Linked DNA regions of Homo sapiens. The protein of the gene in region 1 interacts with the protein of each later gene in a pairwise test. Each region holds a gene or a part of one and is shown in the gene's direction. Other genes may lie near its edges. The genes, in order: PAXIP1, MAST1, EPB41L3 and RNF32.

Evidence for each region.
Region 2: the proteins of PAXIP1 (region 1) and MAST1 interact in a two-hybrid assay, tested with the Homo sapiens proteins (one study listed by BioGRID and IntAct).
Region 3: the proteins of PAXIP1 (region 1) and EPB41L3 interact in a two-hybrid assay, tested with the Homo sapiens proteins (one study listed by BioGRID).
Region 4: the proteins of PAXIP1 (region 1) and RNF32 interact in a two-hybrid assay, tested with the Homo sapiens proteins (one study listed by BioGRID).

What each region holds. Positions count from the first base shown.
Region 1 is NC_000007.14:154,971,793-154,979,461, reverse strand, and holds part of PAXIP1 (PAX-interacting protein 1), read left to right. Parts: intron 1-3,130; coding exon 3,131-3,766; intron 3,767-4,556; exon of another isoform or gene 4,557-7,669.
Region 2 is NC_000019.10:12,848,509-12,856,177, forward strand, and holds part of MAST1 (microtubule-associated serine/threonine-protein kinase 1), read left to right. Parts: intron 1-3,425; coding exon 3,426-3,527; intron 3,528-3,606; coding exon 3,607-3,739; intron 3,740-3,751; exon of another isoform or gene 3,752-3,819; coding exon 3,820-3,887; intron 3,888-7,669. UniProt on the Homo sapiens protein: Microtubule-associated protein essential for correct brain development. Appears to link the dystrophin/utrophin network with microtubule filaments via the syntrophins. Phosphorylation of DMD or UTRN may modulate their affinities for associated proteins.
Region 3 is NC_000018.10:5,533,329-5,540,997, reverse strand, and holds part of EPB41L3 (band 4.1-like protein 3), read left to right. Parts: intron 1-573; exon of another isoform or gene 574-658; intron 659-7,669. UniProt on the Homo sapiens protein: Tumor suppressor that inhibits cell proliferation and promotes apoptosis. Modulates the activity of protein arginine N-methyltransferases, including PRMT3 and PRMT5.
Region 4 is NC_000007.14:156,643,560-156,651,228, forward strand, and holds part of RNF32 (RING finger protein 32), read left to right. Parts: intron 1-241; 5' UTR 242-318; coding exon 319-333; intron 334-939; coding exon 940-1,198; intron 1,199-2,894; exon of another isoform or gene 2,895-3,001; intron 3,002-7,669. UniProt on the Homo sapiens protein: May play a role in sperm formation.

The sequences.
Region 1 (7,669 bases):
TTCTTCTAATTTGTAAGTTTTATGAGTGCTAGAGACCAGCTGACTGTACACAAAAATAACATTTCTTTTTAAAGTAAATGTTTTTGTTTTCTTTAATGAGCACATAGCAAAAGCTTGTGCAAATGGCCTAATAAAACTACCTTTTATACTCTTGAAGTTTAAAAGTTTCAAATTAAGAAGAATGAAAGAATTTATAACTTAAAACCAACAGAAACGGGGTATGGTTATTAGTTGTTGGGGAGAGGGGACATGGTTGACCCTTGAGGTCCTTAGCCCTTAGTGAGTTAGAAGTTTTGAGGATACAAAATTTAGAATAATTTAGCTGATAAATTGGGTCAGGCAAAGGCATCTAAACATTGCTTTCCTCTTAAATCATCTTTGTTTAAACAGTTACTGTCTTTCAGTGATTAAAAACTACCTATCTTGTGAAAAGCGAGAGAAAACTTGAGTGAAATATAGTAAGGCTGTTTACCTAAGTGTTTTACTTAGATTTCCACAGGAAATAGTCAAGTTATTTCTGAAATGTGAAATGCCAGCATTCTATACAAACTAGGAACTCAAGAGCCTACTGGATCCCAGCCTTTTAAGTGTGAAATTATCTTTTTCATATCCAAAATTTTCAGTGACTCCTCTTCATGGCAGTAGTTTTGTTTTGTTTTTTGGTATTTGTTAAAACAATTAAAAATAACTTTTTTTCATATTTTACTATTTCAACAGATATCTTTTTAACTTGGAAAAATCATATGTAAACCATATTACATATAGTCATATGTTATTCAAGCAGATGATATTTTTGTATTAATTGGTTCATAAATATTCTGCTGTGTACCTGGACTTCATATTTTCCTAAAATAACTTGGGTTTTTCTGGAATGGGTAGTCCAGAAATTGAAAATCTCTAGTAGAAATTTATCATCTGGGGAGAGCTATATAACATTTTATGCTTTTAAATATTTAAGAACAGCATGATTTTTTAGGGTAAAGAATAAGACATTTTATTGTCGAGGGTATAGGTAAATTGATGTACTCTTACATAGCTGTTGGAAGTGTAATTGGAATAGCCTTTTTGGGAAGGGAAGTGTAGTTAGAGATATGAAGCCTTAAATCTATTCCTTTTCAAACCTCAACACCAAAACCTAGGAATTTGTCATAAAATATAACTGCAGTTTTTCATAGTAGTGAAACACTGGAAACAACCACGTGGCTAACACTGGGGGATGAACTAAGGTACACAGCTGTGCAACCGAAGAGGAAACTGTAAAAGCCTTTGAGACTACTGGGGAGATCTGAATAGGGCCTGAGGATGAGGTGAATCATAGTTCATTGTGCTGCTATGATAATTATGGTGGTTTAGAAAGTCTTTATCAATTTGAGATCCGTAAACAAAGTTCAGGAGAAGCAAGATTTGTAAAAGATTGCCAGTTATTAAAGCTGGGTGACAGATACAAGGGATTTATTCCACTAGTCTCTAATTTGGTCTGCGTTCGAAAATGTACATTAAAAAGTTTGGTCTGCGTTCGAAAATGTACATTAAAAAGTTTGGTCTGTGTTCGAAAATGTACATTAAAAAGTTAAAAACAAAAGCATAAAAGTATACATGTTTTCATAGGAAGAGGTTGTTCACAATATATTAAGTGAAAAAGGAACATTATAAAGTATTTGTTCACTATGACTATATGTTTTTTCCCTTTGCCCTTTTAATATATGTACATATATATTTATAACAAAAATAAATTTAAACTATACCCTAAAAATGTTAATCGTGGTCCTTTCTAGTCAGTGTGATTATGATTACATTCATTTTCCTTTGCTTAGCTTCTTATTCATGGGTGTCTCCCATGACTAGGTTTTTCTTATATTTTAAAAAGGTTTGAGAAAGAACAAACTCACAAACACAAGTTAAGTCACTGAGCTGTGTGCAGAGCTCACTATTTGCAAGGATCTCCCAGATGGGCAATGCCTGGCGTTCGCTGCCAGGACCGAATGACCAACAGCTGTCCTCTCTGTGCTGCTGCCCCGCATCCCTATTGCGTGTGACTCTTATTCCACCCAGAAATTGCAAATGCCACCTTGGGGCTCTGCAACAGGACACGGAGTTTAGTTTAGGGCCCTGATTATGTGTTTGCTAGAGAATTGCTGTTATGTGTTAAGCTTTTAGGAGCACAGCCAAATTTACAACTCATTTATTTTAAGGTTACTTTATTGTCATATTACTCTTATTTAACATTTTTTATTTATTTCCTCTTTCTTTGTTATTCCCTCCCCTGTGCCTTCCACATTCTACACCCTTTACCACAGGAGAGGTCTCTGTTAGCTTGCCGAACATACTACTCCGGACACATCTTTTCCAGTGGGCTGTATTTTCTGCTTTCATTCTAACTGTGCAAATTGTCATCATTTGTGCCCCAGCCAAAGCTCACCTTTCAACGGGGCTTTCCTCCTGCCCTCCAGCTTATGTTGATGAGATTCCCTTCCAGTCTGTTACTGCATCATTCAGCAGTGGTTTTATATTGTATTTGCATTCCGTATTTAATATCTCTTTAGAACCAAATTGTGAGCCTTGTTAGGTCAGAGACTTGTTGCATCCTTTGTGTCTCCATCCCTTAGTGCTGCTTGGCATATAGCATGAGCTCCATAAATACTGGATCTTGAATAGAGCTGTCCTATGCAAGTCAGCCAAGTCAGCCATGCTCCATGAGTGTACGTGATGCATTGGCGGCACTCTGCCACGCTGTTACTTTACTAACTGTCATGGAAAACCAAGCTTCTAAATATTATCAATCAGTAAAAACTTAGGTAGCAATTATTCATTTCATAATTTTCCATAGGATTACTAGCTCTACTTTTGTACTTAAAATATCATTTTAAAAAGTTAATTTTCAGCCAAGTCTTTTAAGACTCCTGCTACAGGTGTGAGACCTTCCTATGATCACTGCTGTATGGTTCCTTTTCACTTTTGCCTCATGTCCTCTGTCTAAAAGATCAAACGTTGCTTCTGTATAAAATTGTAATAATAGTTGCTCAACATTTCAACTGCATTCCTTGACTGAGTTTTTTCTAAAATGCGTAATTGTAGGAAATGTGATAAAATTTACAGCTTTGTTTTGTGTGTGTTTCTGCTTTCCTCGTAGGAGAAATACGAATGTGCTTTAAAGCGAGCAAGTATTAAAATTGTGACTCCTGACTGGGTTCTGGATTGCGTATCAGAGAAAACCAAAAAGGACGAAGCATTTTATCATCCTCGTCTGATTATTTATGAAGAGGAAGAAGAGGAAGAGGAAGAGGAGGAGGAAGTAGAAAATGAGGAACAAGATTCTCAGAATGAGGGTAGTACAGATGAGAAGTCAAGCCCTGCCAGCTCTCAAGAAGGGTCTCCTTCAGGTGACCAGCAGTTTTCACCTAAATCCAACACTGAAAAATCTAAAGGGGAATTAATGTTTGATGATTCTTCAGATTCATCACCGGAAAAACAGGAGAGAAATTTAAACTGGACCCCGGCCGAAGTCCCACAGTTAGCTGCAGCAAAACGCAGGCTGCCTCAGGGAAAGGAGCCTGGGTTGATTAACTTGTGTGCCAATGTCCCACCCGTCCCAGGTAACATTTTGCCCCCTGAGGTCCGGGGTAATTTAATGGCTGCTGGACAAAACCTCCAAAGTTCTGAAAGATCAGAAATGATAGCTACCTGGAGTCCAGCTGTACGGACACTGAGGAATATTACTAATAATGCTGACATTCAGCAGATGAACCGGCCATCAAATGTAGCACATGTAAGTCACTCTTTCCGAAAAAAATGTCAGTATTGGATCTTAGAATTGGATTTCACAGTCTATTTCAATGTAGTTTATTGGTTTTGCTTTTTCAGACCAAATAACTTACAAGCAGTATTTGTGTGAGAACCTGTTTACTTGTGTGTGTGTGTGTGTGTGTGTGTGTGTGTGTATGTGTATATATGTATATTTCAGGGTCATTGAAAAAGGGTAACAGCGTATTTTAAGTTGAAGATTTAAAGCAGCTGAGTAGAACCAGGATGTCAGTGATGGAGTACTATCCGTTGAAGGGTTTCCACTCTTACTTAGTTTAAAATTAGCAATGGCAGCAAAGAGAATAATGAAGTTTACCAGCTGTACCTGATTTGCTTATAATGAACTTCATGGTAGTAAATAAATAACACAAATTCATGCATTTGTTGAGGAAGGCTTGATTTCAGGTTACAGTTTATATAGCATGGAGCTTATTGATACAGAGTGGATCTTAAGTTTTGTTGCTGGTTGTTTTTTGTTTTGTTTTTGTTTTTTTTTTTTTTTTTGAGATGGAGTCTCACTCTGTCGCCCAGGCTGGAGTGCAGTTGCATGATCTCTGCGCACTGCAACCTCCACCTCCCGGGTTCAAATGATTCTCCTGCCTCAGCCTCCCGAGTAGCTGGAATCACAGGCATGTGCCACCATGCCTGGCTAATTTTTTTTTTTTTTTTTGTATTTTTAGTAGAGACAGAGTTTCACCATGTTGGCCAGCCTGGTTTTGAACTCTTGATCTCTAGTGATCCACCCACCTCGGCCTCCCAGAATGCTGGGATTACAGGTGTGAGCCACCACGCATGGCCTTAAAAGTTTTAAGTACATATATTTCTATTTAAGACAGAAAGAAGGTAGTTGAGGTGGTATATTGGCCACTCTGCATTTTTCTGGGCACTGGAGATAAAATTGTGACTAAGAAAACTAATTTAGGTAGAGAAGACATACAGTAAGTGGAGAAATATGAACAAAAGGACTGTTGATGGTGAAAGGTGTTTCAAAGAAAATAATCAGGGTCCCGTAATAGCAGGTGAAGGGAAGGAGGCTATTTTAGACGAGATGGTCAAGAAGGACCTCGGGCAGGAGGTGACTTAGATCAGGGTTGAATGACAAGGAGAGGCCATGTGAAGAACTGAGGGCACAGAGTTCCCAGGCAAAAGGAAGACCCAAATGGCATGAATTTGCTGAGTTCTAAGAAAAGAAAGTTAATGAAATTTGAACTTCATAAGGTGAATGAGTTCTAGGAAGGATTTAAAAGGGGCCTTGCCATATAGGGCCATAGTGAGGAGTATGGTCTTTCTTGGAAGGAAGCCACTGGGCTTTTGAGTTGGGGTGAGATGCACTCTGTGTAAACAGTGGATCTTTGAGGGGCAAGAGTGAAGCAGAGAGGCCCCTTAAGAGGACATAGAGTTGGAGTTTGAGACAGAAAAAAATGAATGGGAGGATCCAGCTTTCTGGCTTGAGCGAGTGAAGGAAGATGATGCTGTTTCAGAGATAAGGAACACTGGAAAGCTGCAGGTTTGAAGAACCTAAGTTTCTTTTCAGATGTGTTGGGTTGGAGGTATCTGATCCATGCAGGGGCTGTCTGCTACGTGGTGGAACCAGAGAAAACAAGGCTGACTGAAGCTGTGGAGGCGGATGTGAGAATGTGTAGTAGGTGGGGCAGAGCAAGAGGAGGGTCTGGGGCCAGGCTCTGAGGAGCCGCACCATTGAGAGCCAGCTGGGCTGTTCCATCTGATGGTGACACCCCGTCTGCCGCTTCACCTTGTTCTGGACACTTTCATTTCATAATGACAGCTCAAAGTCCCAGAAAAATGGCTCTGTAGCATATAGGAACAACCTGAAGCCGGATCCAGTATTCTCCACATCCACTTTCAGTGGAAAGGCTTGATGTTGATGAAGTGGGGAAATTCAGTATGGCGTAGGTATAAGGTGATGTTGACAATGATCATTTTATTGGGTATGATAATAGCAGTGGTTTACGTAGTGTTTAGAAATGCTGTGGGACAGACAAAATCTTTGTCTCCCCTCCCCTCCACCTAAGCAGCGAGTATTAGTAGTACACGGTTCTTGGGATGATGACAGCGGTTGGCTGGCATCCAGAGTAAGATAGAGGCAAACATGCCCTTTAGATGTTAGACAGCAGACAGTTAAGATGGTGGGGGAGAAGGTGAGCAGAGAGAGAAGGTCATCGGGTTTGAGGAGAATAGAAGATTTTCAAATAGGTGATTCATAGATAGGGAAGACTTTGGGTTTCTGGCTTGAGAGGTGGATGCCTGATAAAATGCCGAGCTGGCCTTCCTCAAGTCCTGGGTGGTGACAGTGCCTTGTAACTGAACAGCAGCTGCCCGTTAGGAGCTCTTGGGCCTGCTTCAGTGCCCACCGCTCCATGTCACCTTGTTGGGTCCCGGAGGAAAACAGGCCTGCCACTGACCATGGGTCTTGGGGGTGGTTGGGAATGTGTGGCTGAGGAAATGGGGAGAAGGCCACCAAGATGAGGAGGTCCAAGAGCTGCAAGGCCAGGGATTGTCCAGGTGGGTGCCCATGAGAGCGCTGGGGTCAGCCGAGTTTAGGGAAAAGGTAGATGCACAGAAGGAGCCAGCTCCAGCACCGCCCAATGCTGAGGGTGCCGGCCCTGGTCCCTGCACATCCGCGTCCAGGCAGGTGGGCGGGATAAAGCCACAGGGCACAGCCTCAGCCACAGAGCAGCAAAGTGACGATCACACAGTCGTCCTGAGAGCCAGAGGATGTCATGACAGGTAGAAAGTAAAGGCCATAAAGAATGACAGGCTAGAGGCAAAGAGGATTCTAGCATTTTTGACCTCAGTCATGAGAAGAGTGATGATACTGCTGAGGTGGAGGAATTGAGAAGGTGACCCAGTCCTGGCAGGAAGACTGCGGCCACGCAGTGGACCTGTCCTGTCAGCAGTGGGATATGCGAGATATGGGCCGTAAAGATCTCTCTCATAGGGTTGGTGTGAGAAATCATGGATTAAGCCTCTGGCACTTCGAGAAATGGCTACTTTCTCACTTTCTTTAGGTGAGAAATTATGGACAGAAGTCATCCATTTGAAATAGGAAATTTTCTTTGCTTTTCATTTATCTGTGGTGTCAAAAAGTGTTGGTCAGTTACTGCTGGTTAGTTACTACTTATTTCTAATATATATGTTTTGGTTGTTTTTTGAGACAGAGTCTCACTCTGTTGCCCAGGCTGGAGTGCAGTGGTGGGATTTCTGCTCACTGCAAACTGCACCTCCCTGGTTTAGGCGATTCTCTTGCCTCAGCCTCCTGAGTAGCTGGGATTACAGGTGCCCATTACCACGCCCGGCTAATGTTTGTTCATTTTTATTAGAGACGGGTTTTTGCCATGTTGGCCAGGCTGGTCTCGAACTCCTGACTTCAGGTGATCTGCCTACCTCGGCCTCCCAAAGTGCTGGGATTATAGGTGTGAGCCACCGTGCCTGGCCTTATTATGTTTTTCAAATACAATGGATGTTGGTTTAAATATAAAGTTCCTTAAGTTTGTATTTGGATATAGAGACAAAATAATTTACTTTGAAATGGAAAGAATTGACTGCAGTAGGGAGTTTGGGCACATCTCTGCACTGGAAATTGTCCTTAGGAGACAAATTTGATATACTCAGCTGTGTGCTCTAGCGGTGGAAAACTGAGAAGGCTCCATCCATTTCTAGTGAGTGAATGGATTTGATCACTAGTGAGAAGAATTGCGGAGATTTTCTGAGAGACTTTCAGCAATGCAAGAGAACATAAGGACGTTTTACTTCTAGATGTGAAGAAAATGACTGAAACTTTAGAAATATGAGACAGATTTAGTTGAACATTAGATTGTTGGGGGGAGTGTAACTTACCATCAAAATC
Region 2 (7,669 bases), on another chromosome or scaffold:
CCCAGCTACTCGGGAGGCTGAGGCAGGAGAATGGCGTAAACCCGGGAGGCGGAGCTTGCAGTGAGCCGAGATTGCGCCGCTGTACTCCAGCCTGGGCGACAGAGCGAGACTCCGTCTCAAAAAATAATAATAGTAAATAAAATAAAATAAAATAAAATATTAAACTTAGCCGGGTGCGGTGGCTCAGGCCTGTAATCCCAGCACTCTGGGAGGCTGAGGCAAGTGGATCACCTGAGGTCAGGAGTTCGAGACCAGCCTGGCCAACATGGCGAAACCCCGTCTCTACTAAAAATACAAAAATTAGCTGGGCGTGGTGGTGGGCGCCTGTAATCCCAACTACTTGGGAGGCAGAGGCGGGAGAATCGCTTGAACCTGGGAGTCGGAGGTTGCGGTGAGCCGAGATCACACCATTGCACTCCAGTCTGAGCAACAAGAGTGAAACTCTGTCTCAAAAATAAATAAATAAATGAAATAAAATAAAATATTAAACTCTACTCACATTTATCACCCACTTTCTCCTCAGTTTCTCCTTGACACTCAGCACCATCCATCATACTGTGTATTTTTGCTTATTTTATTTCATGTCTATCCTTCTCCAATGTCAGCCCCATAGTTGGTGAGGGTGGGGGGGTGGAGTTGTCTGTTCTGTCCACTGCTGTGTCCCTGCTGTTTGGAACAATACCCAGCACACAGTAGGTACTCAATAAATGTTGGGTAAATTGATGCTTGAATGTCCCTTTGCAGTGGCATGCACCTGTAGTCCCAGCTAGCTACTTAGGAGGCTGAGATGGGAGGATTGCTTGAGGTCAGGAGCTTGAGACCAGCTTGGGCAACATAGCAGGACCCCATCTCTAAAACAATTTAAAAAATTTAAGCCAGGCGAGGTTGCTCACGCCTTTAATCCCAGCACTTTGGGAGGCTGAGGCGAGCAGATCACGAGGTCAGGAGTTTGAAACCAGCCTGGCCAATAAGGTGAAACTCTGTCTTTACTAAAAATACAAAAAAGTTAGCCGGGCTTGGTGGCACGTGCCTGTAATCCCAGCTACTCAGGAGGCTGAAGCAGGAGAATCGCTTGAATCCGGGAGGCAGTGGTTGCAGTGAGCCGAGGTTGCGCCACTGCACTCCAGCCTGGGCAACAGAGTGAGATTCTGTCTCAAAAAAAATAAAAATAAAAATAAAAATAATTAGCTAGGTGTAGTGGCACACACCTGCTGTCCCAGCTACTTGAGAGGCTGAGGCAGGAGGATCACTTGATCATTCATTAATTCCACCAATATTTATTTATTTATTTATTTTATTTTTTTTGGAGACAGAGTCTCACTCTATCCCACTGGGCTGGAGTGCAGTGGTGCGATTTTGGCTCACTGCAACCTCCACCTCTCAGGTTCAAGCCATTCTCCTGCCTCAGCCTCCCGAGTAGCTGGGATCACAGGCACCCACCACCATGCCTGGCTAATTTTTGTATTTTTAGTCGAGGCAGGGTTTCACCATGTTGGCCAGGCTGGTCTCTAACTCCTGACCTTAGGTGATCCACCTGCCTCTGCCTCCCAAAGTGCTGGGATTACAGGTGTGAGCCACCATGCCTGGCCCCCACCAATATTTATTAAGCACCTACTATGGGCCTGGCACTAGCCTAAAAGCTGGGAAATCAACTGGAAATAAAACAAAAATTCTTGTCTTTGGAGAGCTGACATTCTATTAATAGCAGGAAGAGACAGAAGATAAACAATAGGCGTTAGAAGCTAACCCCTGTAATCCCAGCACTTTGGGGAGCTGAGACAGGAGGCTTTCTGGAGCCCAGGAGTTGCAGACCAGCCTGGGTAACATAGCGAGACCCTGTCTCTACAGTAAAACAAGTCAAACAAACAAAGACCCAATAGGTATTAGGGCTGAGACCAGGACCAGGGTAAAGCAAGTAATTATTTCTTCCCCCAGAACATTAAATTAATTTTTGAAAAACTTGAAAAGTAGATAAATGAAAACCCAACATTATTTTAAGTTTACATATTTTATTTATAACCAAGCCAGAATGTGTTATAATTTTACTGTCCTGGTTTTAATGAAAGCAAACTCATCAATAATACTATTTTCATTGAAACCATTAGACATTTTCAAAGACACATTAAAACACATATAGGTTGGTGCATACTTTTTTTTGGCTCAAGTTACAATATGGCTAGGCACAGCCTGTTGGATTCTGTCTTTATTTAATTTTCTTTTTCTTTTTCTTTTTCATTTGAGATGGAGGACTCTCTATGTTGCCCAGGGTGGTCTTGAACTCCTGGGCTCAAGCAATCCTCCTGCCTCAGCCTCCTGAGTAGCTGGGATTATAGGCATGTACCACCACATCTGGCTTAAATTTTGATATTTTGGCTTATGATAGATTTTTGGCATTAATTTTAGGCTTTTCAAGTATTGCAATAAGATATTAGTTTTTTCTTTTCTTTTTTTTTTTTTTTGAGACAGTCTCACTCTGCTACCCAGGCTGGAGTGTAGTGATGTGATCTCGGCTCACTGCAACCTCCACCTCCCTGGTTCAAGCGATTCTCTTGCCTCAGCCTCCCAAGTAGCTGGCATTACAAGTGTGTGGCACTATACCCAGCTAATTTTTGTACTTCCAGTAGAGATGGGGTTTTGCCATGTTGGGCAGGCTGGTCTCAAACCCCTGACCTCAAGTAATTCACCCTCCTCTGCCTCCCAAAATGCTGGGATTACAGGCGTGAGCCACTGTGCCCGGCCTCTTTTTCTTTTCTTTTTTTCTTTTTTTTTTTTTGAGACAGGGTCTCTCTCTCTGTCACCCAGGCAGGAGTGCAGTGGTATAATCAGCTCACTGCAGCCTTAGCCCCCTGGGCTCAAGTAATTCTCCCACTTCAGCCTCCCAGGTAGCTAGGACTACAGGCACACACTACCACACCTGGCTAATTTTATTATTTGTAGAGACAGGGTCTCGCTATGGTTTTGTTGTTTGTTTGTTTGTTTGTCATTGCTTTTGTTTTGAGACAGAGTCTCGCTGTGTCACCCAGGCTGGAGTGCAGTGGTGTGATCTTGGCTCACTGCAACTTCTGCCTCCCAGGTTCAAGGGATTCTCCTGCTTCAGCCTCCCAAGTAGCTGGGATTACAGGCACCTGCCACCACGCCTGGCTCATTTTGCGTTTTTAGTGGAGATGGGGTTTCACCATGTTGGCCAGGCTGGTTTCAAACTTTTGACCTCAAGTGATCCACCCACCTCAGCCTCCCAAAGTGCTGGGATTACAGGCATGAGCCACCGTGCCCAGCCTCATTATTTTTACTGTGTGGCTTGGGCTTCAGTCTCCTCACCTGTAAGATGGGACAGTAGCAGCAGTATGTACTCTGAGGGGCTGAGAGAGGGGCCGGGCTGAGGCAGAGTGCCTATGAGCCCTGTCCCTCTGTGTCCCCTGCCACAGGCCTATGAACGCTCTGAGAGCTTGGAGGTGGCCTTCGTTACTCAGCTGGTGAAGAAGTTGCTTATTATCATCTCACGCCCTGCGAGGCTGCTGGAGTGCCTGGTGAGGGGGCTGGGCATGGGTAGGGGTGGGTTGGTAGACCCTGGGAGCCTGTGGTGAGCCCACTCCTGCCCTGCCTCAGGAATTCAACCCCGAGGAGTTCTACCACCTGCTGGAGGCGGCCGAAGGACACGCCAAGGAGGGCCACCTTGTGAAGACGGACATCCCCCGCTACATCATCCGCCAGCTGGGCCTCACCCGTGACCCCTTTCCAGGTGCCGGCTGGTGGGCGCAGGGGGACTGGGGGTGAGCAGGCCCAGAACCCAGCTCGTGCTCACTCTCAGTCCCTCCCTAGATGTGGTGCATCTGGAGGAACAGGACAGTGGTGGTTCCAACACCCCTGAGCAAGACGATCTCTCTGAGGTAAGGCTGGGTGGCTAAGCGGTCAGTACCCTGGTTCCTGGGAGGGCAGGGTGGGGCTCATCTCCGGCTTCTTTGCCCTCAGGCTTTGTGGATCTCTTGGTCCTACACTCTGAGCCTCAGTTTTCCCATCCATAAAATGGGATTAATAATAGCTCTTCCAGAGCCTGGCATGCTGGCTCATGCCTGTAATCCCAGCACTTTGGGAGGCCAAGGTGGGCAGATCACCTGAGGTCGGGAGTTCGAGACCAGCCTAACCAACATGGAGAAACCCCGTTTCTACTTAAAAAAAAAAAAAATGCAAAAATTAGCCAAGCCTGGTGGCACATGCCTCTAATCCCAGCTACTTGTGAGGCTGAGGCAGAAGAATCACTTGAATCCAGGAGGCAGAGATTGCTGTGAACTGAGATTACACCACTGCACTCCAGCCTGGGCAACAAGAGCGAAACTGTCTCAAAAAATAAAATAAAATAAAATAAAATAATTGCTCTTCCCCTGTGACCTCTTTGTCATGTTAAAATCCATGAAACATAAAATTTAATTTACTTTTTTAACCATTTTATTTTATTTTTATTTATTTATTTATTTATTTTTTGAGATGGAGTTTTGCTCTTGTTGCCCAGGCTGGAGTGCAATGGCACTATCTCAGCTCACCACAACCTCCATCTCCTGGGTTCAAGCAATTCTCCTGCCTCAGCCTCCCGAGTAGCTGGGATTACAGGCATGTAACACCACACCCGGCTAATTTTGTATTTTTAGTAGAGACTAAAATTTCTCCATGTTGGTCAGGCTGGTTGCAAACTCCCAATCTCAGTTGATCTGCCCATCTCGGCCTCCCAAAGTGCTGGGATTACAGGCATGAGCCACCGCGCCCGGCCTTTTTAACCATTTTAAAATGAACAATTCGGGGCCGGGTGCAGTGGCTTAGGCCTGTAATCCCAGCACTTTGGGAGGCCAAGGCAGGAGGATTGTTTGTGCTAAGGCATTTGAGACCAGCCTGGGCAGCATAAAAAATCAGCTGGGCGTGGTGGTGCACCCCTGTAGTCCCAGCTACTCGGGAGGCTGAGGTGGGAGGATCCTATGAGCCCAGGAAGTCAAGGCTTCAGTAAGCCATGATCACACCACTGCACTCCAGCCTGGGCAACAGGGTGAGACCCTGTCTTGAAAAATGAAATTAAAAATAATAAAGAATAGGCCAGGTGCAATGGCTTATGCATGTAATCCTAGTACTTTGGGAGGCCAAGATGGGTGGATCACTTGAGGTCAGGAATTCGAAACCAGCCTGGCCAACATGGTGAAACCCCATTTCCACTAAAAATACAAAAAAATTAGTTGGGCGTGGTGGCACATGCCTGTAATCCCAGCTACTTGGAAGGCTGAGGCAGGAGAATTGCTTGAACCCGGGAGGTGGAGGTTGGTGTGAGCCAAGATCCCACCACTGCACTCCAGCCTGGGCAACAGAGCGAGACTCTGTCTCAAAATAATAATAATAATAATAATAATAATAATAATAATAATGATTAATAGTAATAAATAAACAATTCTGCAGCATTTAGTAATTCACCATGCTGTACAGCCATTAGATCTATGTAGTTGCAGAACTTTTTTATCACCCCCAAAGGGAAACCTCACACCCATTACACACTCCCTCCTCATTCCTCCCTCCCTGCAGTCCCTGGCAACCACTAATCTATTTTCTCTCTCTGTGGAATTGCTTTTTCTGGATATTTCTTTTTTTTTTTTTTTTTGAGACAGAATTTCACTCTTGTTGCCCAGGCTGGAGTGCAATGGCGTGATCTCGGCTCACTGCAACCTCCGCCTCCCAGGTTCAAGCAATTCTCCTCCCTCAGCCTCCTGAGTAGCTGGGATTATAGGCATGCGCCACCACACCTGGCTAATTTTGTATTTTTAGTAAAGACAGGGTTTCACCATGTTGGTCAGGCTGGTCTCGAACTCCTGACCTCAGGTGATCTGCCTGCCTTGGCCTCCCAAAGTGCTGCGATTACAGGCGTGAGCCACATGCCTGGCCTTTTTCTGGATATTTCCTATAAATGGGATCGTATGCTCTGTGGCCTCTTATGACTGGCTTATTTCACTTAACATAACGTTTCTGAGGTTTATCCATGTTGTAGCTTGTGTCACTGCTTCATTCATTTTTATAGCCGAGTAATATTCCATTGAATGGTAGATGCATTCATCCACTGGTGAACATTGGGTTGTCCATCTTTCATCTGTTGTAAATAGTGCTCTTATGAATGTGGGTGTACAAATATTTGGCTGGACAACTGCTTTGAGTTATTTAGGATATACGTCTAGAGGTGGAATTTCTTGGTCATATGGTAGCTCTATGTTTAACTTATAGAGGAATCCTGCATGGGCTTTCGAGCAAGCTAACTGGCTGTATGTGTTAATGGCAGCTCAGCATGGGGAAAATTGCCAATTCTATTCCCAGGCCAGCCACACTTTGGCAGATGTTCCAGATGTCTAGTGGAGAGTCCTACCCCAATGGCCACACATGTGTTTTCTCTGAACTGCCTAGTATTTTTCAAAAATTTGGGCTGGGCCTGATGGCTCACGGCTGTAATCCCAGCACTTTGAGAGACTGCGGCGGGTGGATCACTTGAGGTCAGGAAGTCGAGACCAGCCTGGCCAACATGGTGAAACCCTGTCTCTACTAAAAAAATACATAAAATTAGCCAGGTGTGGTGGTGCCCACCCGTAATCCCAGCTACTTGGGAGGCTGAGGCAGGAGAACTGCTGGAACCAGGGAGACAAAGATTGCAGTGAGCCGATATCAAACCACTGCACTCCAGCCTGGGTGAGAGAGTGAGACTCCATCTTGAAAAAAATAAAAATAGATAAATAAAAGAAGCAAAATATAAAAATTGAAAGATTTTTGCTTCAAAATCTGGGTTTGGGCCTTCTCTTGAAAAATCAGAAGTTCTAGGGCTGGGTGTAGTGGCTCATGCCTGTAGTCCCAGCACTTTGGGAAGCCAAGGTGGCAGGATTGCTTGAGCCCAGGAGTTTGAAACCAGTCTGGACAACATAGCAAGACCCTGTCTCTACTTAAAAAAAAATAGAAGAAGAAGAAGTTCTAATAATACTGTGGTGGAACCAGCTGAGTGGGGGTGGTCCTGTGATATTGGGTACCTGCCCCTTCGTCATCCATGGCCTCCACCCTGGTCTACTGGCCCCTGAAGACGCTTAAGTTTGTAATCTTTATTTCAAATTGTGTCTATACAGTCACACAGATATATACACATACCTTTCCTTTATGTATATATTTAAAAGGAATCTCACAATATATGCCATTTGTTTAATTTTTTGAATAGGTAATGGAATGACATCACTCAAAATCTAAAACTCTAAAAAAAGGTATTTATCTCTCATTGTTTGTAGGATTCTGTTATTCCTTTTAATCAAACTTGTTAATTGAGTGATTCAAATCTTCCATCTCCCTATTCATTTATCTTGCCTGATTAATCTAATAGTTTCTGAGAGAAATGTGAAACCTTATTTTAAGCAAATTCTCCTTGTAATTCTGTCAATTTTTTTTTTTTTTTTGCCATTTTGGTTTTTATTTGATTATAGGTAAGAGTTCCATACAATAGTGTGCGAAGTATTGCAAACAATAAAGGAAAAATACAGCATAAGATACCTCTTACACTCTGCCCAATTCTGTCAATTTTTATGTCAGATATTTTTAGGCTACATTCTTTGGAGCATATAAGTTCAATATTTTTATATATCATAGATCTTTTTATGTAATATCTATGTAATAAATC
Region 3 (7,669 bases), on another chromosome or scaffold:
TTCTCCTGCCTCAGCCTCCCGAGTAGCTGGGACTACAGGCGCCCGCCACCACGCCCGGCTAATTTTTTTGTATTTTTGGTAGAGAAGGGGTTTCACTGTGTTAGCCAGGATGGTCTCGATCTCCTGACCTCGTGATCCACCCGTCTCGGCCTCCCAAAGTGCTGGGATTACAGGCGTGAGCCACCGCGCCCGGCGGAGAGAGGGTTCTTGAGTAATCTACCCTGGCCGTCTTTAATTCCCATAGTCTCCCCTAAGTACCCCATCAGTTTTCCGTGAAATATAGACTCACCATTGAAACCTATGAATCAAATTTATCTTTAGCACCACTTCAGTTAGAGAGATCCTTAATCGTGCAATCGCTGCATCTATTTCTTTCAAACGGCTAGCTAGCTGCTGATTTGTTGGGAATTCATCAGGCACTCAGCCCGGGAGGGTTCTGCTGTTATTTGATTTGCCTTGGCTGTGGGGAATTCTGTGCTCAGAAGCAAGGACTGGAGCAGTGAAGTCATTGTCCTGCCTGGTGTTGTGACATCACTATGGCTCAAAGGAAACAAGGGTGGGGCAGGCAAAACCAGACCATCTGAAGCATCTTGCTGGCTTTAAAACTTTGCCTGATCAATCAATGAGACTCCTTTCTCAAGTTGAACTGCATTGCGAGGTATTGTTTGGAGAATTGAAAGGTGTAAATGAATATAAGACTGCATGGGAAAATGTGTCTCCAAGAGTAAGGAAGGAGACGTTTTTTGTTTGTTTGTTTTTTGTGAAATAGTAGAAAGCACTGAATATTCCTTTTGTAGAGAAAACTGTAATTTTTTAGAAGGGCCATTTACAAAATTAAAGAACAAGAAAAATGAGTATATTTTTATTTATATATTGAGGCAACATATTTCTTACTGTTCTTTGTACTAAAACAGCATTCTTTTTAAATTCTTGATTTAGGTTATTAGTAATGTCTTTTAAAAAAAGTATGTGGTCTCTCTAAAGATGCAATTTACTTATTGGGTAGGCAATGTTCTCATTTATTTTTAAGTGATGTGATTGCAGTTGGCAATAGGAAAAAATGGAAAAAGGTGTTTCATAAGTAGAAGATATCTGCAGTGATTTGGAGTAATTGATTTCCATTTCCATTTTTGTTTTATGTACTAATTATTTTATAATTTAGCATTTTAATCCTAATTTAGAATTCTAGTGCAGAGATGATCAGAGACATATTTCACCCAAATTAGTGTTGAATAAATGATAAGACTGAAATTCGGAAGCAATAAAGTATATTTCATGTTTTCCTTTCTGAATTTATAGTAATATCAGCATAAAAAATGAAGAACCACAGAATGGCTGCAGATGTTCCTTGTCTTTTCCATGACTGACATTTTTCATGTGAGTGTATTATGTATGTAGGAGCTCTGGGCAGTTCTTTCTTAACTATGTAGCAATTCCAGAGCACAGTTTCAAAGCATAAAGAAGAAACAAATTGGGAAGAATGGCACAAGAAGACAAGTTGAAATTAGATGCCAGAACTGCAGATTACTTGGTTGAAATGTCTTTGGTGTTGCATTTTTAGTCCTTGCGATGATTGGTTAAATTGCATACTTTGGAATTGTAAGCTTCTATTAGCACCAATTCTTTTGTAATTTGCAGTACAGAGAAAAAGCTGACAACTTAATTTTTAGATTGCTGACATTTTGATACATTGTTCTTATAACCCTGCCTTACAAACTAAAAACAGAGAGAGAGAGAGAGAGAGAGAGAAAGCAGAAAGGTCTATATTAGACCTAGAAAACAAATGTAATATTTAACCTGCCTTGAGTATATATTTTTCTCTCCAGTTATATTGGGTGGGTGCTTGATGAGGATAGGGAGTTATTTCTCTTCAGGTTTCTTTCCCAAACCAAGTAAAGGTCTAGACACTTAAAGCATTCAGTAAATACTTACGAAATTGTATAAAAAATGGGGCCATTTGTAACTTACGCTTTACTACCAAAAAAAAAAAAAAAAAAAAAAATCTTGGAGAAAGCTTAAAAAGCACTGCTGCTTTATTTAAAAATGAGAATTACCAGACTCATGTATGTAGTCATTATTTTTAATGGCGTGGTCCTCTTCATAACAAGGTTGTTACCTCTGTCTGTAGCTCAAATTGGTAGATCCTAGAGGTTTTGCCATATCAGGGAAGAGAATTCTGCAGGTACCAAGAGAAAAGAAGAATGGTTTCTTTGAGGGAAGAACTGCAGGGAGTCGGTTTCCTTTCCTGCCAGCTCTAATTGGTGTCATGGAGGACATCAGTGTGGAGGGTGTCCTCTGAAGAGGGGAGGGATCAAATGGTAGGGTGACAAAAGCTGAAAAGGATTAGTGCTGGGAGATGATATTGATCTCCTAGCATTCAACTAAAGAGAGGAAAACTATTTTCTGTTTTAGCTCTCTCTTCTTTGGTCATTTTTGTACATGCCTGTGTTTACATCCTCAAATAGCGAGTTTCTTTGTATTTGATTCAAGCCCCAAATTTCATCATTTCTAAAAGAAAGTTATTTTTTCACATTTAACATCTCTGAAATTGGGATATGTCTTACATGGCTCTCAGCCATGTTGCAGAGAAAAAGCTGGCAACTTAATTCATTGTTTGTGAATATGCATCAAAAATTGGACATTGGATGTTAGTGGATTGGAGAAAATCCTGGAGACAGTAATGGAGCACTCTTAAGTGATACATTTCTAGTGCTCGTGGTGACCCAAGTTGATATTGTGTGGAAAAGCATAGACAGCAGTAACTCTTAGTTGACGTGCAATTTGGTAGAGTTGGATTCTGAATATGTAAGAATTTTTGGGAACACCTTGGCCAATCTATTTTGTTTATATTTTCTTTATGCGTTGAATAACTCAATCAGAGTTCTTTAGATAAGAAGAAAATGAAAATTCCAGTTTCTAAAAATGTGTGAGTCATAGCTTAATTGGCAGAGTGCTATACAACATGATGTTATCTCTTATAATCAGTGTCATGAATCTTATGAAATATGGTTTATCATTTGGCTATGCAATTTTTTGAAATGTACTTTATAATATGTAATGCTTATTTTACACTGTCCATTCTGTGTATCAGTGATTGTTTTTCTATGTATTATTGATTGTTTCCTATAAAAGGATCCTTTTATAGGGAAAATCTATTGAAAATTCTTCATTTCCCATTTTGACTTTCCATTTTGGCCTTGGGAAGATGACTGGATTTTGATAGAGACTCTCAATTAGTCATTGAGAAGACATTCCAGATAGGACATTCCAGAAGTCAAGAGACCTGCCTTTAGCTGGAATATAGCCTGTATGCTGGGGAGTAATGGGAGGTGCATCTAAGTAGGGAGTGTGAGGCCTGATTGTGGAAGGTTTTTGGATATGAGACTAAGGGATATTTGGGGCTTTGCTAGGTAGTGGGGAGTTATTGAAAGTGGTTGAGTAGGGAAGAAGAATATTTTTTCTGGTGATAAGTGTAGGATGAGTTGGAAGAATAGGAATCTGGAGACAGATGGTCTTTAGTTAATGGAGTTATCCAAAATTTTGCAGAAATTGAATGTGATGTTTTTTTCTCTCAATGATTGATATTTTGGCAATTCATTCCATCTTTTTGTGGGAGTATTTAACTGAGGATTAAATACTACTTTTGGATTGTTTAAGGTAGAAAATGAGATATACGAAATATGGGAAGATTTTCCTTATCCTTTCAATGAATGTATCTCAGTTATTTGAGATATTAAAAATAATACATTCTCACTTTAAAATATAGTCTAACAATACAGAAAAACCAAAAAAGGCAATGTCATTATCTACCTTTCTGAATGTATTACGTATCAGAGTGGAATAGGACACACCTGGGTTGGGCTCTCGGCCTTGCTATTTAATAACTATGTGGCATGGTTCTTTTAACTTCCTAGAGCCTGTTTGCTCGTTTATAAAATGGGCATAATGCTTATATCTGAAGGATATGAGGATTAAATGATGTAATACATGCAAACACTGAGCACAGTATCTGGTATATCACAAGTGCTTCATAAATAGCAGTAGCATCATTTTGTACATATACAGACTCATATGTAGATTACATAATATTTTACATGAATAGACTTCTGTCTTAAATACTTCTATGTAACCATTTTTTGTTTGTTTGTTTCGTTTGTTTGTTTTTTGAGAACAGAGTCTCACTCTGTTGCCCAGGCTGGAGTGCAGTGGCACGATATCAGCTCACAGCAACCTCTGCCTCCCGGGTTCAAGTGAGCCTCCCAGGTTCAAGCGAGTCTCCTGCCTCAGCCTCCCAAGTAGCTGGGATTATAGGCAACCGCCACCCTGCCCAGCTATTTTTTTTTTTTTTGAATTTTTAGTAGACATGGGGTTTTACCACGTTGGCAAGGCTGGTCTCGAATGATCCTGACCTCAAATGATCTGCCCGCCTTGGCCTCCCAAAGTGCTGGGATTACAGGTGTGAGCCACCGCACCAGGCCAAATTTTTTTTTTTTTTAAATGTAACAGTATGTCTCGGAGGAGCTTTTTCATGCATGCAAATCTATACCCACATCATTATTTTTAATGGTAAATAAATATTTTCTTTTGGTCTTGTGCAATATTGATAAAGGATCATTACCTTAATGATGGTGTTGATGTGAAGCCTTGTTGTCCAGCCCCTCTGCCTCCTTCTGCTTGCTGCCTACACTTCATGACTCTCTTCTAATATACACATCAGGAGGCTTGTGGTAAAACAGGATATTTAAAAAAATTAAAATCTCTGATGATTATTATGTATATCTCAATGTTGTGTGTGAATATTGAGTTCTAACAAACTAAAACAAGCAAATTTTCACCATAGATTTCCTGACTTTTTTAAATTTAGATTTTAATGTCATCTCTTTATAGAGGGGCGAGCTCATCCAGCAAAGCCTAACCTGAGTTCCTGGGTGCCCATCATTCTCCCATGTGCCTCTTGGCATGCCTCGAGGGACAGCAGATGCAGCAGTCTGGACCTGAACTAGACTCTCCAGAATCAAAATATCCAGGGTCTGGGATAGTTTAGTAGGTGTACGGGGTCACTGGGCTCCCAGAGATGGAAAATATTAAGCTTCCTTTGATCTCTCTCTGAGTTCCCAACCCTTCCTTCGTCCTCAACAACAGAATGGTAACAAATGTCATATTCCATTCACAGATTTTATGCCACCTCGTCAGGGATGTGGGCTGCTCTGTTATGTTATTCACAATCCCATGATTTTGACTGATCTTGGATTTACTTGGAATCCAGTCTTCATTCACCAATTTGGGGAGAATAGCTTTATGATCCTGAAGGTGGTGCTAGCTGGAATGGTGCACCCAGGCTTCTGTGAGATGATGCCATCGGGGCATCTAGAGGTCTCAGGCTGGCCCGGACAGTTGCATATTTCTACGTAATTTTTTCCTAGAGTTACTAACATCCCAGAGATATAGGGAGTTTTGGGTAGTTTCATTACAGAGAATTATTCTTGATGAATTTTGGTGTTTTATACCATTTTGTGCTACTCAGTGACAACTTTTATTAACTTTAGAAGGAATATGCTTACTGGCTAAGTATAAGACTTGGAAAATAGAGATTGACTAGGTTGTCTGCTCAAGAAGTCTGGAAAACTTTTCCTCTGAATTCTTGAAATGAGAGCAGTAATTCATTGGGGGGAGTTATATTGTAGAACAGGGGTCCCCAACCTTTTTAGCACCAAGGACCTCCATTTTGCTTACCTCCTGCTGTGTGGCCCTGTCCTTGGCACAGAGGTTGGGGTTTCATGGAAGACAGTTTTTCCATGGACGGGGGTTGTGGGGGATGGTTTCAGGAAGAAACTGTTCCACTTCACATCATCAGATTCTCAGAAGGAATGCACAACCTAGATCCCTCACGTGTGCGGTTCACATTCTCACATTCTCACTCAAGAATGTGAATCAAATGCCACTTCTGATCTGACAGGAGGCGGAGATCAGGTGGTAATGCTGACTCACCCACCGCTCACCACCACTGTCCTTGGCCCAGTGGTGGGGAATCCTTGTTGCAGAATAAAGAAAATACAAAGAGCTAGAGAAGATACAGATGGAAACATCTGCTAACCTTGAGCTAGGTAACTGTGGGAGGAGTACTCTATTTCTCTAGGCAAGGTTCCCCAGAGTGAACAGATGACGATGCTGCCTACCTCCAGGTTGAAATGAGATCTGTGTTTGAAGACATCTAGAACCAGTCTAATGAGAGTATACACATAGTACATGTTTTCTCATTTCAGTAGTATATGCTGTTGTCCTCTTTGCTTGTTTTTAGGGACATGTCTTAGTAATTGTAAGATCCAAAGATGACCCTCAGGATGAGTGTAGAATTTTGTGACATTCCACCACAAAACCCGTAATCCAAAAGATGGCCCTCTATGAGAATGCAGAATTTTTTGAGTATGAAACTCCAGATAACAGTAGAGGTTTGCAAAGAATGAGACACAGTGGTTATACAACAGAATTACCTGATGAGTTTATTAAAAAGGAATTTTTGGGGACCAATCCACGGATTATCATCTAATAGATCTGCAGTTGGATCCAGACCTCCTTATGTCCCGACAAGTACTTTGGTGAAATCTGATCCAGGTGGTCCCAGGACCACATTTTGAGACACACTGTCTTAACGACTTTTGTCTTAATGACTTTCCAGCTTCTTCACTATTGTCAAATGAGCGTTTAACCTGGAAAGAAGATATAATATAAATAAATAGTACTAAGGTTGAAGAAAATGTTTAGCATAGAGCAAAGAAACCTGGCCTTGGACTCAGAATGCTTGGGTTTCTTTTTTTCTTTCTTTTTTCTTTTTTTTGAGACGGAGTCTCGCTCTGTCACCCAGGCTGGAGTGCAGTGGCGAGATCTCGGCTCACTGCCAGCTCCGCCTCCCAGGTTCATGCCATTCTCCTGCCTCAGACTCCCAAGGAGCTGGGACTACAGGCGCCCGCCACCACGCCTTGCTAATTTTTTGTATTTTAGTGGAGACGGGGTTTCACTGTGTTAGCCAGGCTGGTCTCGATCTCCTGACTTTGCGATCTGCCCATCTCAGCCTCCCAAAGTGCTGGGATTACAGGCGTCAGCCACGGCGCCCGGCCTTGGGTTTCTTTATGGCTGGTCCATAACTTCTGTGGCCCTAGGAAATTATGTAAAATTTAAAAGGTTAAGGAAGTAGGATAAAAGGTTAGTTTTCTTATCTATTAAATAGGGATAATGATAATTATGTAGCATAATGGTCAGAATGGTTGAGTAAGAATCTAAGTGAAAGTACGTAGCTCTTAATATGTCTTCAGTTGGGGTTAATTTTCTTGCTTTGTGATCGGTAATAGAGTAAAATGGCCTTGAAGAAGAGATGCTTCTATGAGTAAATGTGATCCTGCTGGTCAAAATCATACTGAGCTATGTGGGTCTTACAGATACTTTTAAGATATTATGAAGTTCTTCACTTATATATGTGAAACTTGAGATGATTAAAAGCTTTCTTTACAAATGTTGCTATGTTTAGTGACATTCATATCAATGGTAAATGGTCAGACTACATTATAATTTATTAGCATTTTTTCCTATGCTCATATCCGAGAAGGACACACACACTCACATAATCCACATAGGGGGACAACAAAACAAAAGTCACTGTATATCACATTTGAAT
Region 4 (7,669 bases), 1.7 Mb from region 1:
TTTGTATTAATGTGTCCTCAGGAGCTCAGGGGTGAACTATTTGAGGACAGGGATGAGTCGAAGCATAACTGACTTGAGTTCACCCCCTTCCTCCAGAACCAGAATGTGTAGCTTAGTGCCACCCTGTAGCAGGCATTCCTGCTGCTTCAGGATCTGTTAGACTCTTACAGAGCATCCTCACAAACTTCATGGTTTTTCTGTGCACTGTAACTTTGACTTTCTGTTGACCACGTCTTTGCAGCAGAAGAATAGAAGGAAGGTGATAGGATGTGATGATAGAATTTGTGATAGCCAAGCAACAACTTTTCCTAATTCGGCATGTTAAAAAATAAGGTACGCTATTCTTTTCTTAAACATACACGTTATTTGACTCATGAAATGTATTTTAATTCAGCCATTTGAGAGTATAAAAACTAGTTTGCAAACCCTGCTTGAACTAGGAATTGTCAGCAGGAATGGGCGATGCCAAGTGTCGCATGGGGCAGTGGACAAGCCAATGGAAAAACAATCTCTGGCGATATTTACTGCAAGCATCTCTTAGCTGTTTGGTGATTTTTATTCTGCACAGGAAATTATTAAGTTTTCACAAAAAGGCATAAGCTGAAATGGCAGGAGTCTCCTTAGTAGTTGCCTGGAGTCTAATTTAATTATAGTGAAGCAGCGTGGGTTTGTTTAGGCATGCACAGGTTTATGGGTCATAATGAATTTATTCATATTATAATTAAGGCTTTCATAATTAAATGAAAAGATATTCCTGTATTGTTAACATAAATGCTGAGACAAGGGTCTGCTCCTACTTAGGTAACAATGAGTCAAGCATTCCTTACTATTTGATTTGGTTGTATGTGCCATCAAGGTTGAGTATTGAAGCCTCAGTTCTCTTCTAAATGATATATTACATAATACTCCTCTAAATATGACTTTTTTCCTACTTTTTAGGGTCACTCATCTAAGAAAGATAACTTGGCAGTCAATGCAGTTGCTTTACAAGATCACATTTTACATGATCTTCAACTTCGAAATCTTTCAGTTGCAGATCATTCTAAGACACAAGTACAAAAGAAAGAGAACAAATCTCTAAAAAGAGATACAAAGGCAATAATAGATACTGGACTTAAAAAAACTACACAGTGCCCCAAACTAGAAGACTCAGAAAAAGAATATGTTCTTGATCCCAAACCGCCGCCGTTGACTTTGGGTAAGCTGACGTAGTCATTCATCTTTTGGCTTATTAGGGCTAAAAAAATCTATTGAGATTAATAGTATAATTTTTTATGTTACAGAAATAACTTATTTATAATTATACAGAGAGGTGTGTATGTATTGAAGGTATGTATGTATTGAAGTTTAAAAATGATAGGGGACCATTAGAGCAAGAAGGTAAAGATAGTAATGGTAAGTAGAATAAGTAAAAATGGGAGAACAAAAGAAATATCTATTGATTCACATTGATAAAAATAAATAATTGAGTAAATAAATGATGGAAAAGAAAAATCCCTTATAGTAGAATGAATATAACTCATAAGGATAGTAGACGGGGATAGAAAATCACCTTTGGCAAACACCACAGTAATGATCATCAATACTGAAATTAGGAATGAGAAAAATTTACGTACAGACACAGAATATTGAGGTAGTTTCTCCAGAGATGCAAGTACATGGCAGGGAGAAAAACAATAACTTCACAATTACTTCAGCTGTACAGTTGTAACGCTTGGCAAGCAGCACCTGAACCAAGTAATCCTAGTTAGGTCAGCAGTAACGCACGGGCCAGCATCATGTGTCTCCTGCTGAAAGGTACAACATCACTTCTGTGGCATTCTTACCAAAATGTATATCTGAATTTAATCATGAGGAAACCTCAGACCAGTCCAAGTGAAAGACATTCCACACAGTTCCTGGCTAGTACTCTTCAAAAGTATCAAGTCAACAGAAGCAAATGAAGACCTAGCAACTGTTCCAGATTACAGGAGACCCAGGGGACATAGCTGCAAGTGCAATCTGTGATCCTGGATCAGATCCTAGTTCAGAAAAAAGACATCAGTGTGACAGAGAACCAGATCTGCAGAAGGCATGTAGGCTAATTGATAGATTATAGCAACATTAATTTTGTGGTTTTGATCTTTGTACCAGGGTTATATAAAAGGTTAACATTTGGGGTTAAGAACATACGATAATATTTTCTTTTTGCAAGTGTGAATATGTATTTAGAGTAAGACCAAAACTTGCAACAAATCAGGAATTTCAAAACAACATGAAATGTATCCCAAACAAAAATCAATAAAAATAGCATAATATTTTGTATTAGTTAGCTGCCTGAAATATCTCTGTAATACTTTTTCCATCTCTTTTGATTGCTAGATACTCTTTGATCATATTTTCATGTGACAATAATTCTGTAATGTCATTCTCTATAGAAATAAGTCAGCCTTACCTCCGTCATGGCTGATTGAAATTCTTTATGATAGGTGGGATGCATATAGCATGCAACTTCACACACATTCTTACTGTGTATGGTATTGCTACAAGTTTGTGCCTGTAAATAAAGGCATGCAAATCAATTCCATTTCTTCTAATTAATAAAAGGAGATGTATTATGCACTTATAATTGTAAATGCTGTTTTTAAGGATATTCGTTTCCCAGTGCTGCCACAAGCAATTAGTACAAACTGGGTGGGTTAAAACAAAAGAAATGTATTCTCTCAGTGTCCTGGAGGCCAGAAGTCCAAAATGGCGCTGTTGGCAGGGTTCTACAGAAGAATCCTAACTTACCTTTCCCTGGTGGTTCCTGGCATTGCTTAGCTTGTGGCAGCGTCACTCCAATCTCTGCCTCTGACTTCACAAAACCTTCTTCTCTAGGTGTGATTGTACTCTCCCTTTCCTCTTCTTATAAGGATACCATTCATAGGATGTACAGCCAACTTTAAACCAGTATGACCTCATCTTAACTACATCTGCAAAGACCCTATTTCCAAATAAGGTCAACATCCAGAGGTTCCAGGTGAATAAGAATTTTGAGATGACACAATTCAACCCAGTACATCAAGTATGTCCCTGATAGGGGAGAACTTCCATTTAGATTAGGCATCAATGAGAACGGAATCCTTCACTTACATTTGTTGTCTGGAAGACTTTTTCACAGCATCAAGCTAAGTACTTTTCATACTTTGTTCCTTATCCACTACTCACATATATTACTATGTTGATAGGTACCAGAGGTCTTTTGATAGCTCACAGTGGCTAGGCTATGGTTTGAATGTTTGTCCCCTCCAAAACTCATGTTGAAATTTCATTTTGTTTTGTTTTTTTTGAGATGGAGTCTTGCTCTGTTGCCCAGGCTGGAGTGCAGTGGTGCGATCTTGGCCCACTGCAACCTCTGCCTTCCGGGTTCAAGTGATTCTCGTGCCTCAGCCTCCCAAGTAGCTGGAATTACAGGTGTGTGCCACCACACCCAGCTAATTTTTGTAGTTTTAGTAGAGATGGGGTTTTGCCATGTTGGCCAGGCTGGTCTTAAACTCCTGACCTCAGGTAATCCACCCGCCTCAGCCTCCCAAAGTGTTGGGATTAAAGGCGTGAGTCACCATGCCTGGCCTGTTTTTTTTTAATTTTTTGTTTGTTTTTTGTGTGTGTTTCTTCTTTTTTATTTATTTTTATTTCAATAGCTTTTGTGGTACAAGTGGTTTTTGGTTACATGGATGAATTATATAGTGGTGAATTCTGAGATTTTAGTGCCACCACCAGAGTAGCCTACCCTGTACCTAACGTGCAGTCTTTTTATCCCACACCCTCCCACCCTCCGCCTCCTGAGTCTCCAATGTCCATTATACCACTGTGTATGCCTTTGCATACTCGTATCTTAGCTTCCACTTATAAGTGAGAACATACAACATGAGTTACTTCACTTGGAATAATGACCTCCAGTTCCATCCAAGCTGCTGCAAAGGACATTTTTTCATTCTTTTTTGTGGCTGAGTAGTATTCCATGGTGTATATATACCACATTTTCTTTATCCACTCATTGGTTCATGGGCACTTAGGTTGGTTCCGTATCTTTGCAGTTGTGAATTGGGCTGCAATAAACATACGTATGCATGCATCTTTTTCATATAATGACTTCTTTTCCTTTGGGTAGACACCCAGTAGTGGGATTGCTGGATCGAGGGATAGATCCACTTTTAGTTATTCAAGGAGTCTTCATACTGTTCTCCATAGAGGTTGTACTAATTTACATTCCCACCAGCAGTGTATAAGCATTCTCCTTGCACCACATCAACGCCAACATCTGTTGTTTTGTGACTTTTTAGTAATGGTCATTCTTGCAGGAATAAGGTGGTATCTCACTGTGGTTTTAATTTGCATTTCCCTGATGACGAGTGACGACCATTTTTTCATGTTTGTTGGCCATCTGCATATCTTCTTTTGGGAAATATCTGTTCGTATCATTTGCCCTCTTTTTGATGGGATTATTTGTTTTTTTTTTTTCTTGCTGATTTGTTTGAGTTCCTCGTAGGTTCTGGATACTAGTCCTTTGCTGAGAATTCTTCATACTGTTTTTACAACCTTTTGTAAATCTGAAATTATTTTAAACCGAAAAGTTAGAAATATGATTTTTTATTGATAGGCATGGAAAATAGGTTTGGTTGAGGATGGCGTGTCTTGGCGCAGGTCAGATGGATCTGGAGGTGCTGGAAGATCTGTGTGTTGGAGTCACACAAGGTGGAGGGGACCTGTTTCCACAGCGACGCCAGGGGAGATATTTGATGCTGTCTTCCTCTGAACTTCTGCTAACAAGCTCGATGTCTTCTAGAAAACAGCATGGCTCATGAACGTGTTGAGACTTGGAATAATGTCGTACAGTAGTTTAGTGAAGATCTTCTGTTGTACCTGTATGGTTTATGTAGATGACCAAATAGTTTCATCATAATCAATCTTAAGAGTTTTATCAGGAAAAATTTAAATTAGATATAAAGAGGAACGTCCCAATTTGGAAAATAAGTAAAGTTATTAAGGAAAATAGATGAGACCTTTTTTCAGGACCTCTTTATGGAAAAAATCTTGATTGTGCGTATTAGTTACTAATGACATTGAACCATATGCTCTTTACTGTCTATACATAATATTCCACTTGGATTTCTGTCTTTTCTTGCTGATTTACTGGAGTTCTTTGCATATTCTACATAGTAATCTCTTGTTGATTTAGCCACTGAAAATATCTTCTGTTCTTTTACCATCTTTTAAATTATATCTATTGTTTTATATTGAATACAATTTTCATTCTGATTAATGTTAAATCCATTGTTTTGTTTTGTTTTGTTTTTTTCACTTTATTGCTGTTTGGGAGAGACTTTAGATATACTTCACCATTCTGAGAGTGCAAAGATTTTCCTACATTTTCTTTATTTACCTTTAACCTTTTACCTTTCACATTTAGATGTCACCACAGTTTGTTTTGCTTATGATACTGGGAAAATCGACGAGATTAAAGCGTGTTTTGTTCTCTCCTTCCAAGGCTTCTGCTTCTATGTCAGTATTGCACTGTTTTGATTAATAGAGTCTTGCAATATGTCTTAATAGCTGCTAGGAAAAGACGTTTCCTCTTTTTTTTTTTCCTAAAACTGCCTCATTTTCTACATAAAATTCTGCTGGAGATTTTTTTTGAATTGGATTTATAGATCGGGGAAATACTGTATTTACAGTGTTATCATCTGATCCACAAATATGGTAGCATCTCACACCATTTAGGTCTTTTTGTCTCTGATTCCTAGGGGTTTTCTGAGTAAGTTGATCTCTGCAGTGATTCTTATTGTCTGTGCCTCTCTACTTTTATGCCCCTTCTTTTTTTTCCCTGCTTTTTTTTTAATCTGGCCAGGATCTCCTGAGCTGTGGTGAATACGAGTAGTAATACCTAGCATTTCTGTCTCGTTCCTTAGCCTAACACGTTTCATTTACTTACTTATGTGATGTTTGCCCTTTGTTTATTGTTGTTTTGTGTTGTTTGTTGGCCTTTATCTAATTATAAAATTTCCCTTTTAGCCAGTTGCTACAGGTTTTTAAACTCATTAATAGGTGTACTTTTTTAAATGCTTTTTTTCCTGCAACTTTTTAGATGAGCGTGTTTGTTGTGGGTTTTCTCCTTGAGTTTGTTTGTGCCGTAAATTACAGTGACAGACTCTGATGTTGAATCTTCGTGCATAGCTTGAATAAACCCTACTTGCCCACGGTGTTTTTCACATTCACTGTTGCATTCTGATAACTAATTCTCGTTTACGATGTTTGACGTTTAACCATGGATTACCCTGGACTATGATTGTCCTTGTCTGGTTTTATTATCAAAGCCATATAAGCTTCACCAAATAAGTTGGGCAGTGTTCCCTCTTTTTCAGGATTCTGGAATAACAGAAAATAGGGATGATATGTTCCTTAAAAGTTTGGGGAAACTCACTTGTAAAATCATCTGGGCCTGAGGCTTTTTTTCCTTTAAGCGGGGTGAGGAGAGGTGATGGGTTAGGATGCATTTGGCTGCAAATATACAAGCAACACACTGAAAGTGATGTAAAGCTTAATGGTGTGTGTCATTGTTCACAGCAGTTCTGGTTTGGTGGCTTATTGATGTTTGCCGGGACCAGCCTCCTTCCGGTGCTGCCGTCGGGAGGTGCTGCCCCGTGCATGGACACAAGAGGGTGCACAGCCCCAGGGTCAGTCCTCAACAACAAGGGAGGAGCCAGAAAGGCAGGGGAGAAAGCTCCCAACAGACCTTCCTTCCGCTTCACCTGAGACGGTCACATGCCCATTGATAGTCTAAAAATTGGCAAAGGGTAGCAAGACTTCCACGACATGCTTAGATCCATCAAGAGACCTCTGTGAGGCTGAGCCCATTTCCACTGACGCGCAGTGGGGTTCTAAAGGCAAGATGGGTGCTGGACGTGCTATTGATTTTAAACATTATTACATTGTGGCCAGAGAGCACAGCAGTTTGCTGAAATCTGTCAATACAATTTACCTATTCTCCCTCCCGTTCTAAGGTCTTGATTAGTTTATAAATATAAGGCCAGGTTTGCATGATGGGGAGATGTGGATGTTTGAAGTTGAGGCAGTTGACATTGACCATAGCAGAGTCTGGATTGTACAGCAAGTGCCCACCCAAGTCTAAGAGGAAGGGTGGTGCTGGGGGCCCTGTCTCTCCCTGCTCCCACACCTTGAGCCAAAGGCAAAGAGCTGCCCTGAGGCAGCGCCCCTCCTCCGCAACCTCAGTCTCAGCCTCTTCAGTCTTACTGTTCATTTGTTTCTCTGCAGGCCAGGTGCTCTCTCACTAATGGCCATCTGCACATCCTTTTCCTCCATCTAGAAAACCTCCCCCTTCACCTGCTGCTGTTACTCTTAACCCTGCGGGTCTCCATTTAATGCCACTTTGGTCAAGTAACCTTCTCTGGGGTCACAGCCCCATGCATCCTGCACACCATTCTCCATAGCGTTCATCACACTTGTAGCTGCTTGATTCTTATCAGAAGATCCATGGGCATAGTTTTAGAAGTAAAATTGTTCTATGAGGATTATAACAGAAAGTGTAGCATTCCCCTGACCCATTTTGGGCATTACTCTAAGGCAGCCATTTTCAAATCCTTTGGTTCATTCTTCTGGTATTATTTTTAATATTTCTTTTTTTTTTTTT